Linked DNA regions of Homo sapiens: region 2 is linked to region 1. Evidence: fine-mapped expression QTL. A gene starts in region 1. The other region holds a variant in brackets. All regions are shown on one strand. Distances are from middle to middle.

What was found.
Region 2: its variant is fine-mapped to the expression of LINC01718 in testis (GTEx, PIP 0.97).

Annotation. Positions count from the first base shown.
Region 1 is chr20:61,070,926-61,086,937 of GRCh38, forward strand. LINC01718 (long intergenic non-protein coding RNA 1718) reads left to right here and starts at 8,139. Exons shown (of 2, transcript NR_109919.1): 1 at 8,139-8,405; 2 at 9,055-9,254.
Region 2 is chr20:61,094,054-61,110,065 of GRCh38, forward strand. No RefSeq gene overlaps it. Among named protein-coding and RNA genes, the nearest start is that of LINC01718, 23 kb to the left of the region's middle. RefSeq lists an enhancer at 7,102-8,301. The variant C/T (reference allele first, on the strand shown) is at 8,977.

The DNA.
Region 1 (16,012 bases):
GTGAGCTAAAAATGCTCGTGATGGCATGATTGATCATTGCATATTAACTAAGGTTATTAGAACAGGGAAATGTGAGGCTTTCACTGCCTCCTCACAGCACTCAATTTAACAATCCGTCTTCATTTCCCTTGTGTTTCTTCTTCTGCGCCTGTTTTTTTTTTCTTATCCTCAATTAATTACAGTCAGTTAGATGATGAACACAATGAGTTTCATGGTGTACCTGAAGAGACCTGCTCTTGGGGAGACTGTCTCAGTGCAAAAATGTAGCAGGTTAGTTCCAGAAGATTTAGTTTCTGCTGGCAGGAACCTGGGAGCTTGGAAGAAGGAGCCAAGAGCCATCACAAGCATGTCCCCGAGGCATTCAAACTGGAGACAAAGAGCCCTACCCTGGCTCACTCTACGATGCTGGTTTCTGAGCACAGGTGTCCTTCGCATCCTGGGACTGGACAACAGGGAAGGGAGCGGGGCTGGGTACCACTTGGTTTTAGCAAGGAAGGTCATATAGTAGGTTGCCTGTTTCTACACATTTCTCTCAGTTTGTGGGATGGAGTTTTCTTGGCCCTGGAGGAAGGACAAGAAGTCAAACTCAAAACTGCTGAGTAAGTGGAGGGTGAGAGGGGCCTGAGTTCTATGACATCAGTGGCCCCAAATTATTTTGAGTTGGTCTGTGTTTCCTTGGTTATGTTTACTCTAATGTAGCGCCATCCTATATTCTAGGAATATTCCCTTGAAACAAAATAAGGAAACTCCGCTGAAGCCTCACTTCAGATTCATTGTTTCTTTCAGTACACTTTTATTGGGCCCCTACTGTCTGCACAGAGCTGCAGGAGCGGCTGTGGACATGGGGAGGGACCCCATGGACCTGTTCCCCAGACAGAGCAGCGGATATGGGAACAGGCCCTGGAAGAAGACTCTCTGACCTTGAAACTGAGTTGGTCATTTCACAGCTCAGATATGGTTTGGCTGTGTCCCCACCCAGATCTCATCTTGAATTGTATGCATAAGCAACATGTGTCATCGGAGGCACCAGGTCGGAGGTAATGAAATCATGGGGGTGGGTTTTTCTCATGATGTTCTCATGATAGTGGATAAGTCTCATGAGATCTGATGGTTTTATAAATGGGAGTTCCCCTCCACACGCTCTCTCTTGCCTGCCGCCACGTAAGACATGCCTTTGCCCCTCCTTTGCCTTTTGCCGTGATTATGAGGCCTCCCCAGCCACGTTGAACTGTGGGTCCATTAAACCTCTTTTTCTTTACAAATGACCCAGTCTCGGGTATTTCTTCATAGCAATGTGAAAATGGACTGATACAGTCCCTGAGCCTCAGTTTCCTTCTCTGTAAAGTGGAGGTAAGGATAGTGCATGTTATCATGGTTGTGCAGATTTAATGAGATCATCTGGCATATGAATAGCCCAGTATAGCACTTTACCCCCGGTGGCTGCTCAATAAAGATCGTCTGTGAACGTTAATTAGGGAAGACAAGCCCCATCCCAGTGACAACGGTGCAAAGAGGAAGGGGTTAGAGCCACAGACAGAGCACTGGTAATGGATCTGCAGTTCCCAAAGTGTGACCAGCAAAAGCTGCGTCACAAGCGAATGTGTTAGAAATGCAAATTCACAGGCCCCACTGGACTTGCTGACTCAGAAGCTCTGGTTGGGGGTAGTGGGGGCAGCTCTGTGTTCACTGCCCTGCAGGATATTCTGATACTGGCTCAAGCCTGGCAGCCGCTGTGATCACCTCCTACAGCTGGAGACTGGAAGGAGAGAGTGCCCGCTGCTGGGGGACCCTGCAAGGTTCGCTGAAGGAGGTTGCAAGGGGACAGAGTGAGAGGGGGCTTGGCAGTTCACAGAGAGAGAAATAAATATGTAACCATTAGGTTTGTCGCTGAGTTTCCAACGTTTTTGCATCGAAGTTGCTGGGTGTCAGGACTTTCCCTGAGCCCTTCTCATCCCACCAGGCTGTCTAATGGTCCTGAGCACTGTGAGGTCCTCTGGGGCAGCCACACTTGTCTGTCTTTCCTGTAGTGCTGGGAACTCATGGGGGCCACGGTCAGAGACTGTAGCAGCTCTGTGACAAATTTGCTGGATTTAGCAGGCAGGGCAACACAAATATATTATCTTACAGTTCTGTAAGTCAGAAGTCAGACATGGGTCTCCCTGGGCCCAAATCAGTGTGTCTTCAGGGCAGCCTTCTTTCTGGAAGCTCAAGGAGAGAACCCATTTCCTCGCCTTCTGCAGCTTCCAGAGCCCCCTTCCTCCACCTTCAAAGCCAGCACTGCACCTCTCAGTGCTGTTCCCACAGTTCCATCCCCCTGGCCCCCTCTGACCCTGCCTCTCTTCTGCCTTCTGCCTATGAGAACCATGGAGATCACGGTGGACCCACCTGGGTAACCGAGTATAACCTCAATTTCCAGGTCAGCTGCTTAGCAAACTTAATTCCATCTGCCGCCTGAATTCTCCTTTGTCACGTGAGGCAGCACACTCAATCCACAAGTTCCAGTGATTAGGACATGGACATCTTTGAGGTGCAACATTCTGTCCACACAGGGCCCATGTTCCTCTCCATCTGTTAGCCTGGTGCCCCAACAGTGTAGGGTGGTGACTAAGAGTGAGCATTTGTGAGTCAGATCCATCCGAGTTCAGTTTGCAGTCCCCTGCTTTTCCTTATGTGGCCTTAGGCAAGTTTCTACACTTCTCGGAGACTCTGTGGTCTCATCCGCAAACCAGCGATGACAGTAGAACCTACAGCACAGGGACATTATGCCAAACTCTTGCAATGCCCTTGTCACTGTGTTATTGTGACCATTGGAAGGAAAATTAGAGCTCGCCTGCTCTGACCCCACCTCCTATACCCACCATCTCTCTGTCACCTCTGGCAGATGGTGCAGTGGGGCAGACTGTCTCCTGGTCAGCAGTTTCTCCCTACCCTCTGGCCACACTGCCAATGCTGCTTGAGAAGACATCCTGGTGCCATGCTAAGCCACATGGAGTGGCTGTAACTGACCACACACTGAGTCCCAGGATGGGCCATGATGGACTGGAGCCAATCAGTGGATCCCAGGCCTCTAACCAAAAACATGTGTCCAGGATGGGATCCTGTCCACCCAGGTCTGGAGCCCACACACCACATCTCCAGAGCCTGAGTTGGCCACAGGTACAATGGAGAAGCTTCGGGTGAAGCTGATGTTGAAAAAGGTGGGGGAGAGAGTCAACAGGAGCTCAACAATGTCTTCAAAGACTGTTGTTCAAGCCTCTAGATCCAGCCTTGCCTGAAGGCAGCCCTACTTGGGGACATTTATGTAGACGACCCAGTGACCATGGATTCTCTTTCACTTGCTGCACAAGGAGTCTGGTCTTTCAGTTCTATTCAATCTTCTCCCAAAATAGCACATCTTCTTTGGACAAGATTGAAGGGGATGCCTTCTAGTCAAGGAAGGCTGTATCCATGTGGCTGCAACTCATTTCCTAAAACTTCGTTCTTCCAAAGCAAAACAAAACAAAACAAAAATCCAGCTCATTTGTTTCACAGGAACTTACTAAGTGCCCTCCTCTTTTGTTCTGAAGCCTTCAAATATTTTTAAACCATTGTCCTTTCCCTTGGCCTCCTCTCTTCTGTCTTCATATGACCAGTTTCTTTACTCAGACCCTACATAACTTGGCTTGTAGATCTCCCATCACCACAGTTAGACTCCTCCTCCAAATGCCACTTTTCCAATCTCCTTTTAAAACTGTGAAGTCCCCAGTAACATTGGCTGTCACATAAACCCACTCTGGATGTGGCCAGATACAGCTGATTCTAGTGACATATTGTGTCTGTTAATGTCTGGCTACATCTTAATGTGAAGCGATGGTTCACACTGACGGGATGTCCGAGTGGGAAGGCACCCTGGTCAAGAGGGCTCTGCATTTGTGATTTTACATGACATACATATGCTACTGATGGCTCTTGATGCCATTAGGAACCACCAGCAGGAACAGACATGCAGTTATGCAAACCACATCCTTTTTGTCCAGTGGTCCTGGCCAGCCTCAGACAGTGACCCAGCCCTGAGTTGTCAGAGTGGATGGTCAGCAAGGTGTCAGCTTGGATTTCTCAAAGCAAGGCTGATATGGTTAGGCTTTGTGTCCCCACCCAAATTCCATCTTGAATTATAATCCCCACAATCCTCACCTGTCAAGGACCCAATGGGAGGTGATTGGATCATGGGGGAAGCTTCCTCCATGCTGTCCTCATGACAGTGAGTGAGTTTTCAAGAGATCTGATGGTTTTATAAGGGGATCTTTCCCCTTCACTCATACACACTTCTCTTGCCTGCTGCCTTGTAAGACATGCCTCTTCCCCTTCCGACAAGATCGTAAGTTTCCTGAGGCAAACCCAATGCTGTGGAACTGTTAGTCTTTTCTTTATAAATGACCCAGTCTTGGGTATGTCTTTATAGCAGTGTGAAAATGGACTGATACAAAGGCCATCTCACCACCCCTTGCTTGCATGGGCCATTGATTTTGACTTACCATCAGGGCCCAGCGACCCTGGCCAGGCATCCTTTGGACCACTCCTCACACTGCCCAGACTGGACAGGACACAACCCTGGAAAGGCCTGGCTCCCTCTCCACACAGCTGCTAGGCTTATGAGCTCTGAAAGGTACAGGCCTCCAAGAGCCTCCATTCGGCCTTCAATAATGAGAGGGGGAGAAGAGCCATCTCTCAGCCACAGCTGGAAGGAAGTGGGCTTCATATTCATTTGCACAGCTCCTCTCAACCTGGCCCCTTCTTTTTTCAAGTAGCAAGAAAAAAAGCTGAGAGAGCCAGGAGATGGAGGCTCTTAGTAGATCTTTAAAAGGGGCAATTTTGTTTCATTTATCTGAAAAGTCACACCGCACATGGTGAAGGGGGAAGAAGGAGAAGGGGAGGAGAAGGAGAACTCGTGGAGGATGGCTGGCACCCGGGAAAGCAGACCCCCTCATCCTCTGGCTCCGTGAGTGGGTTCCAGGACATCGTGCAGGAGGTGACTCTCCCTGACTCAAGCTGAGCCTGCTCATCACAGTGTCTGGTGTGCATGATGTTTCTCTTATTTGCTAGGTTCAAAGCTTTGTGCCCACAGCTTCTTTGCTGGTTCTTTCACACGTCTGCCCAGGGCCCAGCACCTGCCATATCTGGAGTGCTTTCTGACCCCGACATTCCTGTCACCTCATTCAGTTCTCTGCTCACTCATCACCTCCCCATTGAGCCCTTTCCCCAGCCCCCCTGCCTAGCCCCATCCAGCCTTCCTCACCCATAGCGAGCTCTGCCTGCTCTGGCTCCTTGTATAGACTGGCTGCTCTCCTGGGTGGCCGGAGCAGTCTGGTTCAAGGTATAAGACCCTCCTCTACTCTGTAACTGCTGTGATTGAGGGGCCTAACTCGAACCCCAGGTACAAACTGGAGTCACAACCAGGACATTCAGCCACACACATGAGGCTATGCCCTGCACAGCAACCCGTGTGTAGAAGTCTCATGGAGCTTCCGTAACAAATGACCACAATGGGGAGGTATATTCCCTCCGCATTCTGGAGGCTAGAAGTCTGAAATCAAGGTATCAGCAGGGCCATCCTCCCCACAGAGGCTCTGCAGGAGGACCCTTCCTGGCCTCTTCTACCACCGATGGCTCTTGGTGTTCCTTGGCTTGGACACATCACTCCAATCTCTGCCTCCACTTCACATGGTTTTTTCCTCTTCTTTCCCTGTCTCTGCTCTGTGTGTCTACTTTTATTTTTTTATTTTTTTGAGACACAGTTCTGCTCTGTCACCCAGGCTGGAGTGCAGTCCAGCTCATTGCAGCCTCAAACTCCCAGATGCAGTCATGGCTTACTGCAGCCTCAAACTCCCAGGCTCAGGTGATCCTCCTACCTCAGCCTCCCAAGCAGCTGGGACTACAGACGCATGCCACCATGCCCAGCTAATTTTTTTTCTTTTAAAGATGGGGTCTCGCTATATTGCCCCAGCTAACCTCAAGCTCTGGGGCTTAAGAAATCTTCCTGCCTTAGCCTTCCAACATGCTGGGATTAAAGGTGTGAGCCACCGTGCCCTGTCTATTTAAGGATACTTGTCATTGGATTTAGGGTCCACCTGGAGGATACAGGATGATCTCATATCAAGATCCTTAACTTAATCACCTCTGCAAAACCTCTTTTTCCAAATAAGGTCACATTTACAAGTTCTTGGTATTAGCACACATATCTTTCTGGGGATCACCATATACTTATAAATAATAAAATTGTGGACATTGTATAAACACTGATGGCATGCCAGTCAAGGTGTTACATACTTCACTTTTGTTTGCTTATTTGATCTGATAGTCCCTATGCCATATCTCCCCCCGCTCCCAACAGGGAGTTGCACTGGACTTCCAACAAGGAAGAGAGGTGGCCTTATCCCCATTTCACGATAAGGAAACTGAACATCGAGGAATGTACAACCAGCAGGTGGCAAATACCAGAACTCAGATGCGTGTCTTCCAGGCTTCCAAGGCTGTGCTCCCACATACCCCACAGCAACTGCCTTGCAGATGAAGGTGCTGGGGCTCAGAGGCTTGCCCAATGTCCCGTGGCTGAGAAGTGATGAACAGAGTTGAAATTCCACTGCTTCCCATTCCAGGCTCTTGCTGCTGTAAGATGCCTCCTCCTCAGGGTCCAAAGTGGATGGAGCAGCCTCTGGTCAGATGGCACCATGTGCTGGGTTACAATACAGAAAATCTTCCCTCCCTTCTTCCCCGGGCCACTTCCCTCATCCCACTGAAGTCTTGCCTCATCTCACTGAAGTAGGGCTTGGATAAGTAGCTTGTTCAGGCCAATGGAACATAAGCATAGACAACATGCCAATCCTGAGCCAAGCCTAGGTGGCATCTGGTGCTTCCTCATGGCCTGTTGTGTTCCTACTGTTACCACAAAAAACCATGCCCTGGGTAGCCACTAATTCAAGGATGATGGGAGGCTCAAGGAGCAGAACTCAACCCAATTCACAACCTGGAGCCTGGAACCTAGAGCCAGGAGCTGGGAGTCCAGAGCCCAACCTAGCCCAGCCGTGGTGCCATGCAACTCTCTTACTGGCTCATAAGTGAGAAATGTCTGTTGTTTTCAGCCTCTGGGTTATGGAAAGATTTGTTACTCAGCATTATTACAGCACTGCTAACTGATACAGATGGGTCTAAACTTGGATGGTTAACAAATATGGAATATATCTTTAGAATAACAGATTATTCTCTGATTCAGAAAGAATGTACAACATAAAATCCAAAATAGATGGCCCCATGCTAACTGAAACCAGTATTCAAGCTAGCTCTTTACAATTTAAAAGGAAATTGGAATTTGAGATGGGACAGGCGTTTTTCATTGGAGATGTTTTGAATGGAAGCATCAAGATCTCCAAAAACGTACTTCTCACTTTTTAAAGGCTTTTGTTTATACCTAACACTAAACTGATGCTAGATTGAAACATCAATTGACAACCTGGTCTGTCAATGAAGAATGTTCAACTTACATGTAAATACATGTACAAACATGGGCCTTCTATTCAGTCAGTCTCAATTGAAAACTTTCTTCTCAAAATTCACTCTAATATGGGGATTGTGTTTATTTATGGGTGACAGCTAATTTGCTTTCTTCCTGTAATAAAATAATTAAAATACTTTGCTCTACGAGTTGTATTTTTTCAGGGTGATCCTTTCATTAAAAGTCATTTAATATCCTTCTGTTCTGTTATCTGCTACATTTCAACTTTTGTGTTTTCTCTGCTCTCCTTGTCTTCTGTCATATTTCTCATTAAATTTCCCCTTTTTGTCCTTTTGTTATGATGGCTTATTTTCTGCCCTAAAACAAGCTTTGAACTTAAAAACCTGAAAAGCATTTTATTTGGAATAAAAGAATCCACAGTGTCACACATTTGTCAGCTAATGTGTTCCTGCCTATGCTTTGTTTTAATTTTTCAGAGTGATTGTTTATGAACGAGGCCTTTGGTTTCTTGGAGGCTGGTTTGGTCTTTCTACCCATTCTTCACAGAAAACGGTAATCCTCTGATAACATAATCATCACTGTAGCAACCGGAGGCGATGTCACAAACAGGATTATGACTTAAGAGCCCAGATTTGCATCTCACACCCACTACTTACGCGCCAGGCGCCTCTTTGGACGCCACTCCACAGCCTCGTGTGTTAAGAGGCACACAAGAGCTGCCTGATTGGCCCCCAAGCTGAGAACCGGGAGCCGGAGGAAATCATAGCGAAATCTCAACCTGATGTAGCCCCATCAGCATCACACACACACTCAGAGCAAAATGGCCTGCTCTTCAATGTAGCTTAGTTTAGTTCAATTGTCCTGCCCACCCCCTCCTGACCCTCCTGCCGCTGAGGGGTGGTATTTGAAAGAACAGGTGAGTGCTTCATAGGTGCCGGGTTCGTGATCTAATTCTGGGTTCCTCAATCTATTAACAGCTTGGGAAGAACAGATCAGAGGACTGATGCTCACCTGGGTTTGGATTCCTCCTTTAGCCTTTGACAAGTTACTTAACTGAGTAAATCCTCAATTTTCACCATGATAAAGGAAAGATGGTGTGTGACTATTATGTTTTTATTCCGGATTGAAATACTCAGTGTATTCATAAGGCCAGTGAAGGCAGCACAGGGAAGTTAGTGTGGGCTGGTGCTGTGCTCATCAAGTCCACAGACACCTTAGGGGTTGTCAGGGTATTATCTGGGTCTTCTGGGTATCCCAGTGGTTTGGTTGGCGATTGTTCACCCATTTCACAGATGGCAAAACTGAGGCTTATGGAGTTTCCTGTGATGCTCCAGTTCACAGAGCTAAAAGGAGTAGAGTGATGGCTCAGACGCGGGCCTCCCAGCTCAAGTTCTGTGCTCTGGATGGAAAGTCAGGGTGACCCTGAAGGACGGGGCAGCTGTGCAGGGACAGGATAGGCCCATCCTGGAAGGCTCATTGGCTGAGGGAAAGAGGGTACAGGGGAAATAATTCCCTTTCATCCATCCATCCCCATTATTGCTCCTAAACTTCCCTTCCACCTCCAGCTTCTTTCCTCTCTTCTCCTTGGGACAGCAACAGCACAGAGAGTGGGCCGCCATCTCTTACTGCCCACTCAACCGTTGCTGGGGACTGATTCTTTCAGCTCTACATAGAATTCAAGAACTATATTTGGATCTGCTTCAGAGCAGTAATCCCCACAGCCTTAAAACATGCAAAATAAAAATAAATTAATCATCCATCAGCATTTTATGGTACATTTATAATTTTATTTAAATGTTTAATATCATAAAACAAGCTTGGCTCATGGAGAAAACTGTTGATTTCATGAGAAGAAATTGCTCTCTTTTAAACGAAAGTAAATACTCTTTAGGGCATCCCCAGATAGGAAATGAAGATGAAGGAAGCTGTTCCCAAGTTGGCCAAATCTGGCAATTATTCTCTCAAAGACAGCAATGTGTCACAGCAAAATGCGACAATTCCCTCAAGTGACCAGTGGGACTGATTTATGAGCAAAAGCAAAGACATTGTTCCCCCAAACGACTTTTGAGTTACTAACTCCCTGAGAGGGAAGATCATGGAAGGAGGGGGACCCAGGAGGCTCAGGGGTCCAGACCAGCTCTGAGAAGGACCTGTCTTTCACCTTTCCTCAAGGTTCTGTTATTTTGAATGGCAGATCACCATCACTTTCAAGGCCTGGCCTTGTTCTCTGATTGGTCATTCTTAGAGAGAGATAGGTTGCCCATTAAGACCCATTGTTCTGACTCTGAAATGAAAGAAAATGAAGCAATTAACATCTTGGCAGTGGGCAGAATTAATCATGCTTGACCATTTTTATTTAAGTTCTCCCCCAAAATGCAGCACCGAAGGGCACTTATTAGTTCACACAAAGAGGCATCTCTGAACAGCAAACACTCAATTATTTCGATGTTTACTGTTGAGAAAACTGCAAAAGAAAATATGCATTCAACAGACACATTCTGAAAGGTCTTTAAAAATGAGGCTATTTTCACAGTTTCTAAGGCATATCCTATAATTTTGTTTTTTAATCATTGCAACCTACTGGATTCAATATTAGATTCTTATTTCTACCTCTCCAAACCCTCATCATAGTCTTCTGGCCATTCAGCAAAATACATTACTTTGCAAAGCTGAATGTAAGCATAGACATCTTACATTCAGCTTTGCAATGTCTTACCTCCACTGTCACAAAATTAGGTAGCACCTCAGATCAGGTGAAGGAAAAATGACACATCGGATTTGTAGACTGTCTTCCTCTCTCCCATGACCACAGTGGTCAAGTGGTTGCATTGATTACCTGATTAATGGCCTCCTTGTATTCCTGTCCCACTGGACTCTTGGCTCGCTCAGCCAGGGGGCTTTCTTTGGCCAATGGATGTTAGCAAATGTGACCCAAGCCAAGTTCTGAAAAGATATTCACTCTCTTTGACCTCTGCCACCACCGAGAGAACATACTCAGGGTTGCTTGACAGAAAAATAATCTAAAAGATATCTAGAGGAGAACGGACTGGCCTCCAGAGCCACCCTGGACCAGCAGCCCCCAACCAGCATGCAGCTGATTGCAGCACAGCGAGCCACCCCAGTAGAGGCAGCTGAGCCTGGCTCAGATCAGCAGAACTGCCCAGCCAATCCAAAACTCAAAGAAAAATAGTGAATGGTAGTTCTTTCAAGCCATTCAGTGTTGGGGTAATTTGTTATGTGGCACTATAGAGGCAATAGGTAGCTGATACAAACCTAACCCCAGCTGCCATTCATTAAGCACATGTTATGTGTCAGGGATGGCGCCTTGTAAAGTTGACACTTTACAGACTCAACTCTGATCTGCCCAGTGATGCCACCAGTCAGGTGTCATTATTCTCATTTATATAGATAAGGACACATGCCTTACACAGTAGAGTTTAGTAAGCATGTGAGAAGCTATGTTTGGACCCACAGCAGTCCCCTCTTCCCTCAAGTTACCTGCCTCCACCATGACAGTTTGCCCTGAATCCCTGGCTCTGGTGCCCCACCCTGAGCATAAACAGGTCATCATGTGAATACCAACAAACTCATGTTGACCAGGAAGGACTAAGCCATGCCTCTGAACTGCTGACACGTCATGTGACCTGTTCTGGAAATGCTATATGGGCATGAGCAAAGCCCACCTTGAATGTCTAAAAATAAACATGAGCCAGGAGTTCCTATCTGCAGCCACTCATCAGCATTTTATCCTCCCAGCTCACCCACTCATCACACTGTAAAATGGGATTGCTCCGAACAAACCCATACAAGGCAGATGTCCAGCCCACCACTCATGCCCAATGATGGGGGAAGCGACGGTCACTCTCCCACAGCAGGCCTCTCCCTGAGATCACCCTGTTCTGGCATAAATAGAGTGTACCTGTGATGGACCAAATTCATCCAGCTCTCGTTCTGGATGTCCTCCTAGCAGAAGCTGGCTACTCTTAGCTGAATTCTGCTTTGTTCCCTAATAGGCACTGGCCTGGATGCCATGAAAGGGCCAGGAGCTTGCCAGTCCTCCTCACTGTATCTGCAGCTTTAAGCATGATAAGAAATACAACAAGTGTTTGTAGACAATGAATGGTCTAAATGTACATATGGGGAGTTCTACGAGCAATGCATCACAATTCCAGCACACACTTATTTGCATCTATTAATGTTTCTTGACTTTGGTTGCACACTAGAATCATCTGAGCTGTTCTGAAAAGCACAAACACACAGCCCCCATCCTGGAGCAACAAAACATCCTGGGCTATTTGAAGGATTCCTGAGTAGAGCTATTGCTTGAATTCTCTCTGGGTCAATCTGATGTGCAGCGAGGGTTGACGGCTACCCTTCTCTCCTATTTCAATTTAAACACAGAATTTTAGCCAACTCCTTTCTAACCCTCATGATGTGATGTCATCTCTCCAGGGAGATCTTGCATAGTGTTCCCAGGAGAAGGCCCAGCAAAACTTGCGGCAAGAGGAAGTAAAAATCCTGCCCCCACCCCTTCTATACATGCCTGCAGGTGGCTTCACAAACTTGTTTTCCCTGCAGCTGCTTGCACATGTAACAGCTTCCAGGATAACCAATGAGCTGGAACCAGTAAGATGTGGCTGGGGAAGGGGGCTTCTCATCTGTCAGCTGGGGAGCCTCATGGGGCCTTACATGGACTCAGCTTCTTACCAGTTCCAGAAGAGCACCCAAACGGCCCTGGGATTTTCAACTCTGAAGCATAAGGTGGGAACCCGGCAGCAGGCTGGACCCTCTGGCCCCCCTCCCTGTTGTCCTCCATGAGCTCCCAGTCCCGTTCATATCAGAGCAAAACCACAGCTGGTGGGACTTAGCGGATTTTGACAGCATGTTGATTATGAATATTGTCCCTTTCAGGCAAGTTAATGAAGCACCCAATTCACACCAGCTTTTATCTGTCAGAGAAACACCAGCAAGCAAGGTAGAGACAACAAGCCAAACCCTGATGTGCAAGTATGAACTTCATGTTAATTAGGAATCGGAAGAATGTGTGGGTTTCTCTAATGCACTCATCATACGAAGCCAGCTGATTCAAATGCTCTCAACCTGAGCTTCGGGTCATTTGTGTTAGCTGTAAGGCCATCTGAGGCAGATGCATTGAACCTGACCTTGAGAGTATCCTTGACCACTGGACCAAGAGGCCAGAGACTCTACAAGTGTGCTCAGGCCAGATGGCTAACTCAACTAGTGCCTGGCAGGAAGACTCAAGATGCCAGCTTCTCCCCTAAACCATGTGAACATTCAACCATTTTAAACTATAAAAACAGCAATTTCAACCAAAACACTGGACCTTTGCCTATTTTACTGGAAGTTTCTCTCTTAGAGTATGATGAAAAGAGGATTGGTTGTAAGAGACCTGGCTGCAAGGCTCACCTCCACTAAGTAGCCATAGACATTTTGGCCACTAATGTGCTGTGAGTCACCTTATTCCTCTGGTCCACAGCTTCTTCATCTGGGAAAGGAAGACATTGGATTGTAAAGTAAGAATAGCCCACATTTTTTAGCATTTGCAATATGCTAGGCAATGTGCTAATTGCTTGATTATTAAAGAGACAATTAACATTGAAAAGTAGTTATTAACGCTTCAACACCCCAGCAGGTGGAGATCGTCATTAATCCCATTTATCAGATTGGGTCATTGAGCTCAGGATGGTGCATGTGCTGCGTCTGAAAGGCTGGGGTCTGGTGCTCGCTTCTGGGCTGTTGATGACTGGGTTCAGATGCATCATTGTGCATGCCTTTCTTAGCAGAGGATTTCTTCCCGCTCTGCTATGGACAATTTACTGCTTTACAGTCTTTTCACCAGAGACCACTCACTGGCAGTGGCATTTGTAGAAAGTAGCCTCTAAGCTGCAAAGCCCTGCCTGTCACCAGACCTACGTAGAGGGATTCCCACTTGCTTTATGATGTCCAGAGTGCTCCTCGTGTTGCCCTGTGGGTTTTATTTTCCTGTTTTCCACTGGATATGGTCAACTGGCATTTACCATGAATTCCCAGCTCCTCCACAAGTTCTTCTTGTACTGCTAAGACTGAAAACTTAAACAATACATTTTCTACAATCTCTTATGTGGTGAGCAGATAGAAACGTGGTCCCCAGTGATCCCCACCCCCTGGTATTCATGCCCCTGTGGAATCCTGCACCCCTGTCAGTGTGAGGTGAGCTAGTGACATGTTCTAGCCAATAGGATGATGGGATGACATGTGTAATTAAGGGGATAAGATGTCACTTCCTTGATTAGCTTACAAGAGATTGTAACCTCCATCTTGCCAGCAGACTCTCTGGCCATCTCAGCTTCCAGGATGTAAGCCCTCACATTGCAGAGGTCCCTGTGGTAAGGAACTGGAGTGGAGGGTGGCTCTGCACAACAGCCAGCAAGGAACTGAGGCTTCTGTCACCCCTGGAGCAACTGAGCTCACCAACAACCCGAGTGAGCTTGGAAGCAGAGTTTTCCCCAGTTGGGCTTTCAGATGAGACCCCAGCCCCAACTAAGGCACCATGATGGTAGCCACAGGAGACATGGGACACAGCCAAGCCCACCTGGATCCCTGATCCACAGAAATTGTAAGACGATAAATGTGTACCAAGTTTGCTGTAATCTGTTAGGCAGTAACAGGTCACAAACACACCTTCACCCACAGATGAGATTGAGTTCTGTCAAGCAGAAAGACACTTCCCAGGGGGATATGGAAGAAATGAGGCCATCTCCTGGCTTCCCATGGCTGATTCTGCCAGCACCAGCACCTGTGTCAGGCCACCAGCTGAGCAGGTGTGGAGATGACATTACAGCCTCCATAGCTGCATGATGCTGTCTGGGTGTCCTCATAGTTACAATGGTGGCAGCAGATTCCTGAGCCCCATTGCCCAACCAAGAGACGTCCGTTTTCATGTATTGTTGGGATCGATAGTTCCATGGCAGTCTCCTGATTCCTCACTTTCCTGATGGTGGAAGAGATGGCAGCTGCCTGGCAGGTCATTCTGCAGTGCACACTCACTCTGCAAGGTGGCACATCTCTGCATCTCCAGAGTCCACTTCTCCTTCATCTGGTAATTTCATGAGCACCTGATTCCCTGTATTCAGCCACTTTCACCTCAAGTAGTTTCTGTTTCCTGCACAGAGCCCTGATGGATCCACCTGGTATCTTGATTGTTTCCTAGAAAGTGAAGAAAGTCCTTCAATTTTCTCACCACATACCTGAGTGCTTTTTCTCAGTGAGAATTCAAGAGACTTTGAATCTTGGCCAAACACAAATTAGACAACATAATCCTACCTCAAATACATATGGGGCTCTATCATTTACCAAGCTGCAGAACTCCTTTCTTTTACACCCCACACAACTTTCTGAAGTAGGTGTGCTTCCTACCCTCCCCATTTTATAGATGAGAAAACTGTGGCTCAGAAGCAGAACATGTGCTGACCAGCTGGGAATGACATAGCCAGGACTTCACCCAGATTTTACACTAGCTTTAATGCTTTCTTCCTGCCGTATGATGGCAGTTCCTGTGATTTATTATTCTTGTGACTTCACCAGTGATGCCATGCTTAAACCCTCCAGCTTCTACAAACATGAACCACAAGGTGGAAATGGCCACTCAGTTTGACTTTTTGGACATTATTTTCTCAATCCCATTCCCAGGATGCTTGCTTGACTGCTGTGTGAGAACCAGCTCATCCATCTGTGTTTGTTTTGTTTTGTTTTTGAGGCAGGGTCTCACTCTGTTGCCCAGGCTGGAGGGCAGTGGTGCAATCATGGCTCGCTGCAGCCAAAACCTCTTGGGCTCAAGCAATTCTCCCACTTCAGCCTCCTGAGTAGCTGGAACTACAGAAGCATGCCACCACCCATGGTTAATTTTTGTATTTTTTTGTAGAGGTGGAGTTTCACCATGTTGCCCAGGCTGGTTGTGACCTCCTAGGCTCAAGCAATCTGCCCACCTCAGCCTTGCAAAGTGCTGAGATTAAAGGCGTGAGCCACCATGCCTGGCCCCATCCTCTTATTAATTTACAAATACACAAGTGGGTGCTAGCAACAAGATCAGGGTACTGTCCAAATCCTTCTCTCACCAGGGTGAACAGATTTGGAGGCACCTGCACTGCCCAGCTCATCTTCTCCCTTTGCACACAGATGGCATCCTCTAACGTAGCCCCATGTCCATGGAGCTGTGCTCATTCAGATGAAGTTCCTTTCCTGAATTTGTGTGTCCCAACTGCTGCTTTTCTCTAATTTTCCCAGTGTATTTGTCTGTTCTCACTCTGCTAATAAAGACATACCTGAGACTGGGTCATTTATAAAGGAAAGAGGTTTAATTGACACAGTTCCACATGGCTGAAGAGGCCTCACAATCAGACCTGAAGGCGAATGAGGAGCAAAGTCACATCATACATGGTGGCAGGCAAGGGAGCTGGTGCAGAGGGACTCCCCTTTATCAAATCATGAGATCTCATGAGACTCACTCAGCATCATAAGAACAGC
Region 2 (16,012 bases), 23 kb after region 1:
TGGCCACATCAGAGTGACAGGTATTGGGCTTACCCTCCATCCAGCTTCACCTGTTTTCAGGCTTTAAATAATCCTGAGAGAAGAGAAACAAACAAAGTGAGGTCCACATGGACCCAGGCACTCCCTCCAAGAGGACTTTCCAAAATGTCACACAAGGAGTTAGAGCTGAGTGGAGAGCAATGGTCTCACTGTGGGGAGGAAACAGAAATCAGAACCGGGACTGCCGAGTTGACTGGAATTTGTGTGTACACAAATGGGAGAAAGAGATAGCTGTGCAGAGAAGCAGCTTCAGATATCTACATAGATCCCATTGACTACATGGCTGAATATTAAGCTGCAAGTGCCCACAGAAAGATTCTGCAAGGATGGGCAGAGAACAGATCCTGGAAGCTGTGGGCTGAACAGATATTAGCGATTTCAGAGGATGCTTGGGACTAGGGGAACTTGCAGTCCTGAACAGTCAGTGCAGAGACACTGACTGGGCATCCCTGACAGTCATTTGATACCCGGACTGGCAAGGTCTTAAGAAGAGAAGTACTCTATTCCTAGACCCATCCTAACAAAGCCTAAAAGCACGGTCCAACAGCATAGAACTCATCTGCCAGTAAGTTAACTGCTTGCCAGAGAAAGGCTCACCACTCTTAAAAGGAAGACCACATAATCTAGATTCACTGTGATAGATCATTCATACTGTCCAGCATACAATAAAAATCACTAGACACATAAAGAACAGAAAAAAATGTGGCCCACTAAAAGATGATGCAATGTTTTAATTAACAGAAGAGGGTTTTAAGGCAGACATTATAAATATGTTTAAGTATTTAAACTAAAAGATGGACATAATGAGCATGCAGATGGGGAATCTCAGGGGAGAAATGGAAACTAAAAAGAAAAATTTGGTAATTTTATAATGGAAAAATAAAATATCTGAAATGAAAATTTTACTGGATGTACTTAGCAGCAGAACAAGAACTAGAGAAGGAAAATAATCAGTGATTTTTAAGCCTGAGAAATTAAAACTATGCAAAATAAAGCAGGGAGTGGAAAGAGAGAGAGAAAAGATTGAAAACAAATGGAAATTAATGACTTGTGGGACAATACCAAATGATCTAACATGGATGTAATTGGAATACCAAAAAGGAGATGAGGGAATTTGATCAGGAAAAAAATACATAAAGAAAAGATGGGCATTTCCAAACTTGTGGAAAAGTAACAGGCTGTAAAACCAAGAATATTCATGAACCCTAAGCAGAATAAACACATACACAACACCCACCTAGACATACCAGACCTATCAGAGTCAGACTGTTGAAAATCAAAGATAAAGAGGCAGTGTTGGAAGTGGCCAGAAAAAATAAAAACAAAAAGATGCCTCCCAACCTTTTTGGCTCCAGGAACTGGTTTTGCAGAAGACAATTTTTCCATGAACTGGGTGGTGGGGAGGATGGTTTGGGGATGATTCAAGCACATCATATTTATTGTGCACTTTATTTCTATTGTTATTACATTGTAACATATAATGAAATAATTATACACCGCACCATCATGTGGAGTCAGTGGGAGCCCTGAGCTTGTTTTCCTGCAACTAGACAGTCCCATCTGGGGGTGATGGGAGACAGTGACACCCAAAGTGTGTTGCTTATGTCCAGTCTATTCTGTAATCTCATTTTGGTGGCTGTCACTGCAGAAAACTGCTTCACAAAGATAGGATGTTGGAAATGGAAACAGGCTTTTCAGTGATTTTGTGGCAATCTCAGGATATTCTGCCTTGACTTTAATCCAGAATGTATGGTGATGTGAAGTTGTCTCAAACATACTTTTAGGCTCACCAGATGCAGCTGTACAACTGAAGTATATCAGCTCACTTGCCACGATAGAGCGTGCCACCAGACACAGCTTAATGTTCACCTGCCACTCACTGATAGGGTTCTGATATGAGTCTGCAAGCAGTTGATTTACTATGGTCTCTGCAGTCAAACCTCCCGGCTAATGTTAATCTGTATTTGCAGCCACTCCCCACCACTAGCATCACTGCCTCAGCTCAGCCTCAGATAATCATGCATTAGATTCTCATAAAGAGCACACAACCCAGATCCCTCAAATGTGCAGCTCACAATAGGGTTTGCACTCCTATAAGAATCTAATGCCACCACTGATCTGAGAGGAGGCACAGCTCAGGTGGTAATGCTCACTCACCCTCTATGCCTGCTCATTCCTAACAGCAAAGCAAGGGGGTGTCAGACTGGACTGAAAAGCAAACCCAACCCTGCTGTATATCAGAGAAGCACTTTAAAGACACAGATAGGTTAAAACTAAAAAGACAAAAAAAGACATACCATGCAAACACTAACCATAGGAAAATAATATTTAATTCTCTAAGTTTCTCTGTTATGTTGTTTTGCTGCTGCATTTTTGTTTTATCATTAAAGTAAATCTCTATATTAATTTCAAATTTGAAAAATGACCTGTATAGTATATATCACCCTACATGAAACTCTATAGATACATCCAAAACCCTACGAAGTTGTTCTGTAAGTTTCTGATAAATGAAGCCGCAATGAAATTGACTGAAAGGATCTTTGTGTGATGTCCAGCCTCCCCCACATCTTTGCCATCACTTGGTAATGTCAGACTTTCTTTTTTCTTTTTTTTTTTTTTTTTGCAGGTCTGATTATGGAAATTATGTTTCATGTTGTTTACTTTAAAGTTCCCTAAATATCAGTGTTTTTCTATTTGTTTACTGATCTTTGAAAGTTCATCAGATGATTCTGGCATCTCTCTGTCCTTCATCCCCACCCCCTACCTCACTAGAAAAGATCCATTTGACACCTGGGGCCAATCTGTCTAGCTATGGCTTTGGTTCTTATCTCCAGTGACAGCATAGTTGAAGATGGTAAGATAATCTTCACTGATGTATGTTTTACATATTAATGCTTGTGTTTGGTGCCAGGGTAATTTACAAAGATGCAAGTCTGGAAATTGAGCAAGTCCATTACCACCAGCTGCTTTACTTAATGGTCTAGCCTCTGTGTTAGGCCATCTTTTGCATTAATATAAATAAATATCTGAAGCTGGTAATTTATAAAGAAAAGAGGTTTGATTCGCTCATGAATCTGCAGGCTGAACAAGCATGACACCAACATTTGCTGGACTTCTGGAGAGGCTTCAGGAAGCTTACAATCATGGCAGAAGGCAAAGCAGGAGCTGGAGTATTACATGGCAAGAGTGGAAACAAGGGGGCAGTCTCAAGCTTTTGAACAACCAGATCTTACAAGACCTGAGTGAGAACTCACTCATCACCAAGAGGATGCTGCTAAGCCATTCATGAGGGATCCACCCCCATGATCCAAACACCTCCCATCAGGCCCCACTTCCAACACAGGGGACTCCACTTCAACAGGAGATTTGGAGGGGACAAACGTCCAACCATATCATCTGTTCTTTTACCCAGCAAAAAGCAAAATAACAACCCAACCAAGCGAAGTTTTTTAAAATAAAAAAAGAGGAAAAGAAGAGAGATGAAAGAAAGAAGAAAGAAAGAAAGAAAGAAAGAAAGAAAGAAAGAAAGAAAGAAAGAAAGAAAGGAAGGAAGGAGGGAGGGAGGGAAGGAAGGAAGGAAGGAAGAAAGAAAGAAAGAAAGAAAGAAAGAAAGAAAGAAAGAAAGAAAGAAAGAAAGAGAAAGAAAGAAGAAGAAGAAAGAGAGAGAAAGAAAGAGAGGAAGGAAGGAAGGAGGGAGAGAAAGGAAAGAAAGGATGGGAAAGGCAAGAGGTAAATCTCTCTCTCCTTGGGGAGGTCCCACAGTGCTTGTCCAACACTTAGCAAGGCTGACTTCCCTCTCACATCCTGAAATGCCTTCACCCTGGAGAAACAGAGGGACATCCCCATTTATGTACACTTTGTTGAACATGGAAAGAAGGTTAAACCTTTCTTCTTTCTTTCCTTTTTTTTCCATTCCCTCCATCTCCTGCAGGCTCCAAACAATTCTCTTCCCCCCTCACCCCCAGCACTATTAAGGTATAATTGCTAAATGAAGATTATATATATTTACAGTATACTACATTGCATAATGTTTTAACACATGTATACATTGTAAAACAATTACATCAAGCTAATTAACATAGCCACTTACCATTTTTTTTGTGGTGAGAACATTTAAGATCAACTGTCTTGCAATTTCCAGGTATAGGATTCATTATGATTGACTACAGTCACCGCGCTTACAATAGCTCTCCAGAACATATCCACCCTGTCCAACAATTTTTTTTCATTGCTATAAGGAAATATCTGAAGCTAGGTAATTTATAAAGAAAAGAGATTTGATTGGCTCATGATTCTGCAGGATGAACAAGCATGACACCAACATCTGCTGGACTTCTGGAGAGGCTTCAGGATGCTTCTCTATGCAGCTGAAGGTGCTACCTCAGATGTGCAGCTTGTCTGGCTTCCTGGTCTTCCCCTCCCTGGGGGACCAACTGACCCCAAACTTAGCCAGCAACCAAGTCATCAGGAGGGCTTCCTGACACACAGGCGCTGGCCTCATCCTACAGTTTCTAATTTACCAGGTCTGAGAATTTGCATTTCTAAGAAATTTCCTGGCAATGCTGGACCCTGAAGCACATCAGATGCTGGCTCCACTTCTGGGGAGACCATGTTTAAACCAAGGTAAAGGAGGCAGCAAGAAAGGCTGAGCAGTGTCTCTATCGGTAGCTTTACCCTCCCAGGTCTGGCTACACTGGGCTCTCCCCTGTCTGACAGCTCCCACGTGTGTATAATGCTGGAAAATAATTACTAATAGCAGCAATATATAATGTTGATTAAGGGTTCATGCCTACGAAGGACTAAAATGCATGGGTGATAATAGTCATAGTAATAGCACAAATAATAATAATGACTCAAACCATGATTTTGGCACTGTGGTGGGGCCAGCACCATACTCAGCATGCCCCTGTGAGCATCCCTGGTTCATCCGTGTCTTGCCCCTGGGTGGCAGCCTCCCATTTATCAGAGCTTAATGCCTACCACCCCCTCTTGAAAATATGCTTCTTTTTGTTCATTATCAATATCCTCATACCTACCCAGTGTCTGGCACAAATTTTGTATTCAATAAATATTTGTTAAAAGATAAAAAGGAGGCTCAGAGAGTCGAAATAACTCGCCAAAAAGACCATGCTGCTGATAACACTCAGAGATGAAATTCAGCTCCAGGGTTATCTGACCACAGAGTCCGAGCACTCCAGCCAGGGGCTGGAGGAAGGAGAATCCCACGTGAGGATGGGGAGCCTCTGATGCAACCCCTGGTCCCAGGCTGGGTGCCCTGACGTGAGATCCCAGCCTGGAGGGGTGGATATCAGCCTCCCTGCCTTACGTTTGGCTGCACTGGGGTTAAATCACCACCCAGGTCAAGCCCTTTGCAAGAGGAATAGGCATGACTCTGTGGTTCCCAGGTTAGTCTTCTCAGCCACTGCCTCCTGGTCCTCAGGTATAAGAGCCCTTGGTGGGCACCTTTGCATTTAACCTTATCAAGGGTCTGTGAATTTTGCAGTTAAATCCATTTTCACAGACTCAGAGGAAGAAACTGCCTGCCTGGAGTCACACAGCTAGTGCCTGGAGGCAGGCCTTTTGAACCCAAGGCCTCGCTTGGTGCCAGAGCCTCTCCCACCAACTCAGCACTGCCTCGGGGTGCTGCGTTCAGAGGTAGCAGCTTCATCAGAAGCAGGCAGCACAGTCGCGGCGGGCACCCAGGCAAAAGCAAGCCCAGCCTCCCCTCATCCCACCTCGTTGCCCTCTTGTGTCTTACGCCCCACAAAATTTCACTTATTCCACTAAGTATCCAGAATTTTCAGCCAGCAAAGAAAAGGAAGAAGAAACAGGCTGCACAGAGCAGCGAAGGCGTGTCTGGAGCGCTGCCCAAACTGACTCCTTCCATCACTCCCGGCACAAAGGAGCCGGCACGTCTGGCCTTCACGGACGCCTCCCTGTCCTTGCTCGCTCCAATTTCTTGGCTGACTGAAAGAAAAGGAGACCCCTGATCTAATGAAATGTTCCAGCAAGAGGATAAATTAACTTCCTCTCCGAGTTGTCCAAGCTATTTACTGTAAACCATGCAGTCAAATGAAACTGACTTCAGCAGCTCAGCAGGGTCTTACAGCCTCCAGTATCTGGAAGGAAGTCCTGGAAGGACGGATGGCCCCAAAACGCTTCTCCCTGGTGCTTTCCACTCTTCTTCTTTTCGGATTTTGAAAGGAAAACGTCTCTTTTGGAAATCAGTAATACTAATCAAAATATAAGGATTCCTGTTTTTAACATTTAAATTGCTCCAAACTTCCTTGTCCAAACTGCTAAAGCAGCATCCAGTTATTGAACAGTGCTTTCTAGAACTACTGAAAAACAGGGGTGAGCACAGGTTATCTTGAGAAAGCCGCATAGAGACAGGGCTGGGCTGCAGGGGAGCAGGAGAGGCCTTCACTCAGGGGTCCAGCAGGTGCTGGTGGGCCTGGCACAGCGGCACCCCCTTCCCTGCACCCGTGGAAAGGTTCCGCAGGAGGAGCTGTGGAGTGATCGGGGTGATGAACTCAGCATGAGGCTGTGGGTTGGTGGCCATGAGGGTGATTCACAGGTGCAGAGCAGGTTCTCAGACGTTGGTACATGTACAGATTGTGCAAGACAATAGGACACCAGACAGATCCCCGGGCTCCACAGCAGAAGTCTGGTTACTGGGCAGGCAGGCCCCAAACACTGTATTTAAAACAAAACCCCACTGACAAGTCCTGTGACTGGAGAGACCCCGAGTGAAGGCAGACCTCCATGTCCTCTACATCCTGTGCCACATCTGGAGAGACCCCTGTGAGGGCAGAGAGCTACCTCCTCTTCTTCCTGTGTCACACCTGGAGAGACCCCGAGTGAGGGCGGATGGCCACGTCTTCTACTTCCTGTGTCACACCTGGAGAGACCCCGAGTGAGGGCAGATGGCCACATCCTCTACTTCCTGTGTCACACCTGGGGAGACCCTGAGTGAGGGCAGACAGCCATGTCCTCTACGTCCTGTGCCACATCCGGAGAGACCCCAAGAGAGGGCAGACAGCCACCTCCTCTACTTCCTGTGTCACACCTGGAGAGACCCCGAGTGAGGGCGGATGGCCACGTCTTCTACTTCCTGTGTCACACCTGGAGAGACCCCGAGTGAGGGCAGATGGCCACATCCTCTACTTCCTGTGTCACACCTGGGGAGACCCTGAGTGAGGGCAGACAGCCATGTCCTCTACGTCCTGTGCCACATCCGGAGAGACCCCAAGAGAGGGCAGACAGCCACCTCCTCTACTTCCTGTGTCACACCTGGAGAGACTCCAAGTGAGGAGAGACGGCCACATCTTCTACTTCCTGTGTCACACCTGGAGAGACCTCGAGTGAGGGCAGATGGCCACATCCTCTAATTCCTGTGTCACACCTGGAGAGACCCCAAGTGAGGGCAGACTGCCACCTCCTCTACTTCCTGTGTCACACCTAGAGAGACCCCGAGTGAGGACAGCCAGCCATGTCCTCTACTTCCTGTGCCACATCCGGAGAGATCCCGAGTGAGGGCAGACAGCCATGTCCTCTACTTCCTGTGTCACACCTGGAGAGACCCCGAGTGAGGGCAGACGGCCACATCCTCTAATTCCTGTGTCACACCTGGAGAGACCCCGAGTGAGGGCAGACGGCCACCTCCTCTACTTCCTGTGTCACACCTGGAGAGACCCCGAGTGAGGGCAGACGGCCACATCCTCTAATTCCTGTGTCATGCCTGGAGAGACCCCGAGTGAGGGCATATGGCCACATCCTCTAATTCCTATGTCACACCTGGAGAGACCCCGAGTGAGGGTGGATGGCCACATCCTCTAATTCCTGTGTCATACCTGGAGAGACCCCGAGTGAGGGCAGATGGCCACCTCCTCTACTTCCTGTGTCACACCTGGAGAGACCCCGAGTGAGGGCAGATGGCCACCTCCTCTACTTCCTGTGTCACACCTGGAGAGACCCCAAGTGAGGGCAGACAGCCATGTCCTCTACGTCCTGTGCCACATCCGGAGAGACCCCGATGAGGGCAGACAGCTACCCCCTCTACTTCCTGTGTCACACCTGCAGAGACCCCAAGTGAGGGCAGATGGCCACCTCTTCTACTTCCTGTGTCACACCTGGAGAGGCCCCGAGTGAGGGCAGACGGCCACCTCCTCTACTTCCTGTGTCACACCTGGAGAGACCCCGAGTGAGGGCAGACGGCCACATCCTCTATTTCCTGTGTCACACCTGGAGAGACCCCGAGTGAGGGCAGACGGCCACATCCTCTAATTCCTGTGTCACACATGGAGAGACCCCGAGTGAGGGCAGAAGGCCACATCCTCTACTTCCTGTGTCACACCTAGAGAGACCCCGAGTGAGGGCGGATGGCCACATCCTCTAATTCCTGTGTCACACCTGGGGAGACCCCGAGTGAGGGCAGATGGCCACATCCTCTAATTCCTGTGTCACACCTGGAGACACACAGAGTAAAGGTGGACAGCCACCTCCTCTACGTCCTGTGCCACACCTGGAGACACCCTGAGTTAAGGCAGATGGCCACCTCCTCTAATTATTTTTAAGAACTTTTTTGGGGTATAATTTACATGCCAGAAAGTTCACCCATTTCAAGCATATGATTCAATATTAAAGCTTAAAAATGTTATCAATTTAATAACATTGATGGTTACAGAGCTGTGTAATCATCAACCTAATCCAATATTAGAGCATTTTCATCACCTCCAGAAAGATTTCTGGTGCCTGATGCAGTCATTTTCTTTTAGACTCCCAGCTCCAGGCCTCTCCTCACAAATCCTCGCAGCCAACACGTTAGTATCCATGTGTCCATTGTTGGTATAAGAGAGAATTACACCTGTTTTTTTATGCTCAGCAAAGAATTGCTGCCATTTTAAAAACAAGGAAGAATAGTGCACCTGCTTTTCT[C/T]CCGTGTTTATCTTACCCATACGCAAGAAGAAGCCACATGCCTTGGTGTGGTTTAAGGCAAGGGCCTCCCTGCCGTTTCCTTTCCCGTTCTTTCCAATGCCATTCACCATCCCAAGGCAGGTGGAGGTTTTGTGAACCTGGTAGAGATGAACTTTGAGGCCTCTCACCTGCATGGGCTTCCTCCAGGCCCTAGGAAGAACCCTAGCAATATGTTCATATGGTCAAACACTTTTGTAAAAATTGCAAAAATAAGCTATTTTGAGTGGTGTTGGTTAAGAGTGTTCTGCATTTGCACTGAGACTCAGCTTCCAGTTCAGTGAGGACAGCCGGGCTAGTGTAGATGCGGCTTCCAGGAGTGTTTCTGCTCCCCTTCCCCACATCAATCACTCAACATTTACACAATATGGCAAAAGCTGAAGTTCTGGTGTGATATAAATGACTACTCTGGTGCTAGACTCCAGAAGAATATGGAGAGTGGAGGGGAGACACGGCAGCAGGAGCCAGTCTGTGGAAAATCCTTCCAAATCATTTCATTTGTATGAAGAAAACTTGAAAAAAGATCTCCCAAATTTGAAAAGTATTCAAAGTTTGCCTATGACATTAGTAAAAACACTTTGTGATATAAAAGGAAACCTTTTAATTGTTAATAGAAAATCAAACTTTGATCAATGATGATGGATTAAAGACTGAATCACCCTTCAGCAAATCATTCTGCTTCTTCAGCCTCTAAAACGATTCCCTTCCCTGATAATTGTGACTCAAACGGTGCATGGACCACGAAAGTGCTTTGTAAACTGCACAGCGCTATGGCAATGGTGTCATTATGATCTTCATCGCTACTATCGACAACCTGGAATAAAACTCTTTAACTTCCAGTTGCTGCAACACTTAATCACCCAGTTGACCATGGAAATTACTCAGCTCGGCATGAGGTGCAGATATAGCTGCAAGTGGAAGCTGTTTTTAAATAAAATCTTATTAATTAAGGAAGTTCTGGTTGTTGTTTATTTGCATTTTTTTAAGCATCTAGGAAGTCCCCTTCCTGGTTATGGTCTGCTAAACCTGTTTCTCCCTGAAATTGTGTTCGTTATCTAACATTCTTCAGGTTCCATCTGATCACAGTCTTCAGCCGTAGATGTCTCTTTCCTCCATTCCCCCAGCTGAGTTTCCAAGCACAGAAAGGAGGAGCAAATACACCTGAGTTTGGGGCCCTCTTCCCTCAGTTCTGTATCCATTTTCCCTGAGCTGGACAGACTTCAAATACCATCTTTCTGCCGCAGTTTTATCTGTCAAGCCATCGTTCTACGTGGTATTACTCTTTTCTATTTCAGAGAATTAATTCTCTGAAATTGCCAGAAATAACCTCACACCTCACAGCAGTTACCCCTACCCATTAGCGGGAAATGGCTGTGGTCTCTCTCTTTGGAATTATTGTACTGCGAGGTCAAGGATGGCAAGTGCAGTGGAAGCCATCTGCTTTAGCACCATTAGTGCACTTTGTAGATAATTATGTAATTTTTCAAGCATTCCTGGGGATTCACTTCAGCTGCCCAGTCTTATGAGTGAATTTTGACAATAGAAAATTGTGGTTGATTTCAGTTTGTTTGGGTACCGTTCCCATAGTAATAAGAATAATTATTAATAAATGGAGAAAGTTGTGCTAAGGGTTTCAGTCAATAAATAACCTTAATTTTTTTTCTTTAAAAAAATGCTTGCAACAAAGATCTAAAGCAGAAAGAAGCAGGGACATCTCATAGTCTCTTTTCTTTTTGGGCTTATCTTGGAGGTGAGATACTATTCTCAATTTAATTAAAGTCATGAGGAATAACCGGCTGCAGGACTATATTTCTAGCAGGGATCCCAAATGTCAGGGAGCTTGTGAATTTCTCTAACAAGAGAAGGATAAAGGTCACCTACGTGTTTTAAAGACAAGTACTCACCTTTCCCCCACCCACCCTCATCAGCTTGTAAGTCGTGAAAGGCTTAGCACATCATACGTAGTTGGAAAAAAAAAGAAAAGAGTACAAACAGCACATTTGCATGATTGGCCACTGTTTCTCCAGTATTCAAACCATCAGGCACTCGTGGGCCCCCAGAAGCCAGCAAGTGTCCTTGTATTTTCTGGGTGGCTGCATAGTGAACTGGCATCATGCCCTCTGCCTCCACACATGTTCGTGGAAACCTGGCCCTGTGCTGGGCAGCAGGCTACAGATTGGGGATATAGCATCCTACACAGCCAACAATGCCCATCTGGGGCCTCATGGAGCTTGCCCTGCCAGTGAGGTTTGGAGTGGGAACTTCAACAGCATGGTAAAGGTCCCTGGATTAATTCCAGCTCCCCCAGAAGCAGAATTCAAGGCTTCAAGTTGTTAATTTGGGAGGGAATCCCAGGAAACTGCAGCAGTGGAGTGCAGGGGTGAGATAGGGAAGGAAAGATAGACAATGGAGCGTATGTTATTCAGCCAGCTACACCTGTGGGGTACTAGAGTGAGCCCCTGGGGCAACTCCCGGAGCCACTGCAGACATGCATGCAGAGCTGGTGTGCCTGAGGGGAGAGAGAGCTGGGGTATTTAAACACCCACTCCCAAGAGTGATTGATGGACAGCTGCTCCTGGTCACCATTAATCCTCTGGTGTTTCTGACCCTCTGGGCACGGAGCAGGGTGGGGGCTGTGCAGAGGGCTGTGTAGCCAGAGAAAACCCTGGGCAGAGAGATGCAGAAGCCCCGACAGAGGGAAGTCTGCAGGCACAGCCCCCACACCCATGGCGGGCACCAGGGTGAAGGAGGAGCTAAGGGAGCCACAGGCACCCCAGGAAGGCTTCTTAGTGAAGGGAAGGGAAATGAGATAGCCACATGGAGCCTGGAAAGATGGGAAGAGTTCTTCCCCCAGGAGGATCTAGGGAGGAATGCTCCATTTGCAGGGCCCCAGAGGGAATTTAAGGAAGAGTGATTTCAGGGCCCTGACAGGAGTTTAATCTCACTGGGGCAAAGGTGAGAGGGGGTGGGAAGATGTTGCTGAAGGGGTGAAACCAGGCCAGAAAATGGGAAGGTCCTATAACTCGCTATAGCCCTAGGGAGGAGTGTAAAACAAAGGCATGAGGAGATCTCCTTCTGCCCACTGCAGGAGGGGCCATTTCCCCAGTTTCCAAGAGGGAATGCATGCCTGAGCTGGCAGAAAGGCTGGAGAGAGGTGGGTGGTTGGAAGGGAAGATCAGTCAGAGTCGGGGCAGTGCCATTTACAGGGTTGGGAGACCCAGCTTAGAACTTTAAACAATGGAGTCTCGGTGCAATTTGCAGATGAGGGATAAGACCAGCCAACCAAGGCCACTGATTTGGCCACAGAGCCTGGAACCTCCTCTGGGAGAATCACATGTGTCTGCCTTCTCCCCTTCTCCCTATAGTCCTGCTCTGCTCTGTAAGAGGAGAAGACACTCAAAGGTACGAGAGGAGGCTGAGGTCCCCCCTTCCACCCTTCCCTGAGCAGAGCCATCTGACACTGGAGCCGAGCTGCTCCCCCTCTTCCTGCACATCCTCAGCTCTCAGGGGCAGCTGCCAGCTTGGTCTCAGACACATTCACTTCCCAGACCCCAATCTCATTTGTAAAATGACAGCTGGAGCGCATCTGGCCTGGCAACTTCATTCAGAACATCATGTGGCTTCGTTTCTCTGTAACTCCACCCTTCACTGCAGAAGTTCAAACCACCAGTGGGTCTGTGAATCAAGTCGAACCAGACCTTGCTATGTTCCTTCCTTTCTGATGCATCTACCAGAGAATGATTCCAACATGCTCCCTTGAATGGCTGGGCCAGGAATTGGCACTTATTTCCACGTTTCATAGTGATACCCTGAACTGGTCTGTAGGAGACAAAAGGGGCCCTTTGCCCATCAGCAACCCTGTGAGATGCCATCAGCACATTTATCCCAAAAGCCACACTGCGATGTTCGTTTTTTACTGGGAGACATAGTAAAAAGGCGGTGACGTGGTGTAGGGCCGCCAGAGCGTATGGGTCTGTAATGGCCGTCTTCACTATTGCCTCCTGCTCCTGATGATGCTAATGTAATAGTCACCCACGGCTGTGAACAAGCCGAGTGAGCGCCATTAGAATGTGCTTAGCATGAGAGCAAGACCTCTGTGATGCTGGCCCATGTGGTGGACGGGATCCCCTGCTTGTAATGCCAACCACAGACACCCACAGATAGAGAAGGAGGGAAAGAGTTTGGTTGGAGGTACCAGGGTATCTCAGAGAGCTGAAGAGGAAAGCTGAACAACTGGGTCCCGAGGACAGAAACCTGTGCCCAGCTGGGGATCTCTGCTGCTGGACGCAACGGTGGCCCCTGGTTTCTTCACTGCTCTGTGTGGGGAGACTCCGTACTCAGACGTGGTGAGAGTCAACCCACTGCACCTCGGCCTCAACCATCTCAGCCTGGGCTTAGGTATTCATCCTCAGTGCCTTGCACACGCTGAGCGTTCAGTAGGTATTTGTGGAATGAATGCTTTAAGAGGTTCCAATTGGCCAGGCGTGGTGGCTCACACCTGTAATCACAGCACTTTGGGAGGCTGAGGTGGGCAGATCACTTGAGGTCAGGAGTTTGAGACTAGCCTGGCCAACATGGTGAAACCCCATCTCTACTGAAAGTACAAAAATTAGCCATTTGTGTGGCATGCACCTGTAATCCCAGCTACTTGGGAGACTGAGACAGGAGAATCGCTTAAACCTAGGAGGCAGAGGTTGCAGTAAGCCAAAATGGCGCCACCGCACTACAGCCTGGGCAACAGAGCTAGACTCCTTCTAAAACAAAAGAAAACAAACAAAAAAAAAGAGGTCCCAATAGATTGTATAAATTTGAGGAGATTCCTCTTTCTCCATCACGGATTTGGTTATTTGGTGGGAGGGGGAAGAAGTTTCAGGAGAAAATTGTTTAAAGGTCCCTTGTTTTCATTCAAAATGAACAAAATGGAAACTTCATTAAGCTCCATAGAGGAAACATATACTTTTAAATGTTGGTTACCTATGTTATTGTCTAAAGCCGGATTTGCAATCTAGGGCCTGCTGGGAAAATTCAGCCACCCTGTGCTTTTATAAATAAAGTTTTGTGGGAACACAGCACACCATCTCTTTATATCTCCTTTCACACTGCACTAACACGGTTGAATTGTTGCAACAAAGACTGCATGGCCCTCAAAATGGGAAATATTTACTATCTGACCCTTTACCAAAAAAGGTCTCTGACCCTTGGTCTAGAAGAACATCAATAAGACCAGGCTGCTGCATTCTAGTCTCTGAATTATGGGACATTCTGGGCACAACTGTGAGCAGGGTGGGGAGAAAGGGCACACCCATCCTCTTGGAACCCCCTGAGGCCGAGGCTCCAGGAAGATGTCCCAGTGCGGATCAATATCAATCCCAGCCCCAAGCGCCCCGCCGGAGCTGGTGCAAGCAGCCCCACAACCGTGTTGTTTTCTCCCCCTACTCTCTTGGAAGAAATGCCCACGATTGAGACCCCAGACCTGGGTTTAAACCCTGATTCCTCCCTGGCTACAATGAGAACAACTCACTAAAGACCCTCTAAACCTCGAGCTTCCTCATCCGAAAAGCTGGGTCGATGGTTAACATGAGTCTCTCGGACAGAAGCTAATGTTGGGATTAAAGGTAACAATTTGTGTGAAGCAAGCATGGTGCCTACCTGCAGAAGGTGCCCAGAGACCCTCGTTTCAAACCCCACTGTATCCCTAACATCCATGATGTACTGGTAAACGTTTAACAAGCAGATTTCAGTTTGGGATGGGGGAAGCCCTGACTTATAGCATCTGCCAATTGTCATGCTATAAATGGCCCTACCCTACCGTGGCTAATTTCAAGCTGTCTACGTGACATTACTGAACCAAGGCAGGGAAGAGATGCAAACCATCAGGTCTCATGCGTGATGTGGACCAGTCCCAACACATCATGGTGAAAGTTAAGATTTTATCAGGTTTCCTAGACATTAAAAAATTGCCCTGGTGTTTGGTTAATCCCCACATTCGCTGGGGTCCCTGATGTTAGCTGCAACATTCTTTCCTCGATACAAGGCTCCGCCACGAGGGCAGGGGGCAAGCTCCATGCATCTTTCTCCCACTGACACAGACAGGGCTCTTCACCACCACAGCCCATGACCTCCTGGACTCAACTGCCATTGGAAGTAGAAGTTCAAGATCTCTACCCGGGGAGGCCAATACATTAGCTGGTTGCTGGCCTCCTTTTCTTGGGTTGAGGCAATATTTTATTTTAAAAGTTGGGGTATCAAAGTACACTTAGAATGATCTCAAGACATGCAACATCCTCTTGTCTCTTTGATGGGCACGCGGTGGCGGAGCCGGCACCATGCGTTTAGCCATCTGAGGGGTAGAGTCACAGCCATGACCATCGTGGGCAGCTTGACAGGGATTCTCTCCACCCCTCATTAGAACCCCTGTTAAGGGCACGCCTGAGCCGAAGAACCAGCTCCTTCCTGGACGCTGTGGCTTCAATGTTAAAATCCCAATCCGGAGAAGGATTCCTTCCCTGCTTTTCCTGGACACTTTTCATGGCTGAGCGTTCCCGCCCAGGGTGAGCACTGCTGCTCCGGCCTTGCTGCCCCATCGCTGTAGAGACTTCATCGTCTCCATTTCTGGGCCTGACTTGGCTTATTTTCTGCAGACTTAGAAAAAGAGGGCATTAAGAAGTCATTTATTCCGTAAGTATTTTACATTAGTCTAGCTCTGGGTCAGGGCAAGTTCTTGTCTTTGGGCCTTTTGTCCCTTGTTTCACAAGTCAGCCTTGCCGGACACCAGCTTCCCCATGGCCACTCCCAGGGGTATCAGGTCCCGTTTCATGGGGTTGTGGCAGCAGTGTTTTCAGGGAAGCTGAGTGTGAGCAACTCCATGTAACTCATTCCGCAAGCGAACAGGCTACCTCTGTGAATCAGGAACAGATAATGGAAGAGTTGGTTTTCGTTTTTTTAAGGAATAATAATACCTGGTAGGATATGAATTACACAGTTCTCTTTTTTTTCTCTC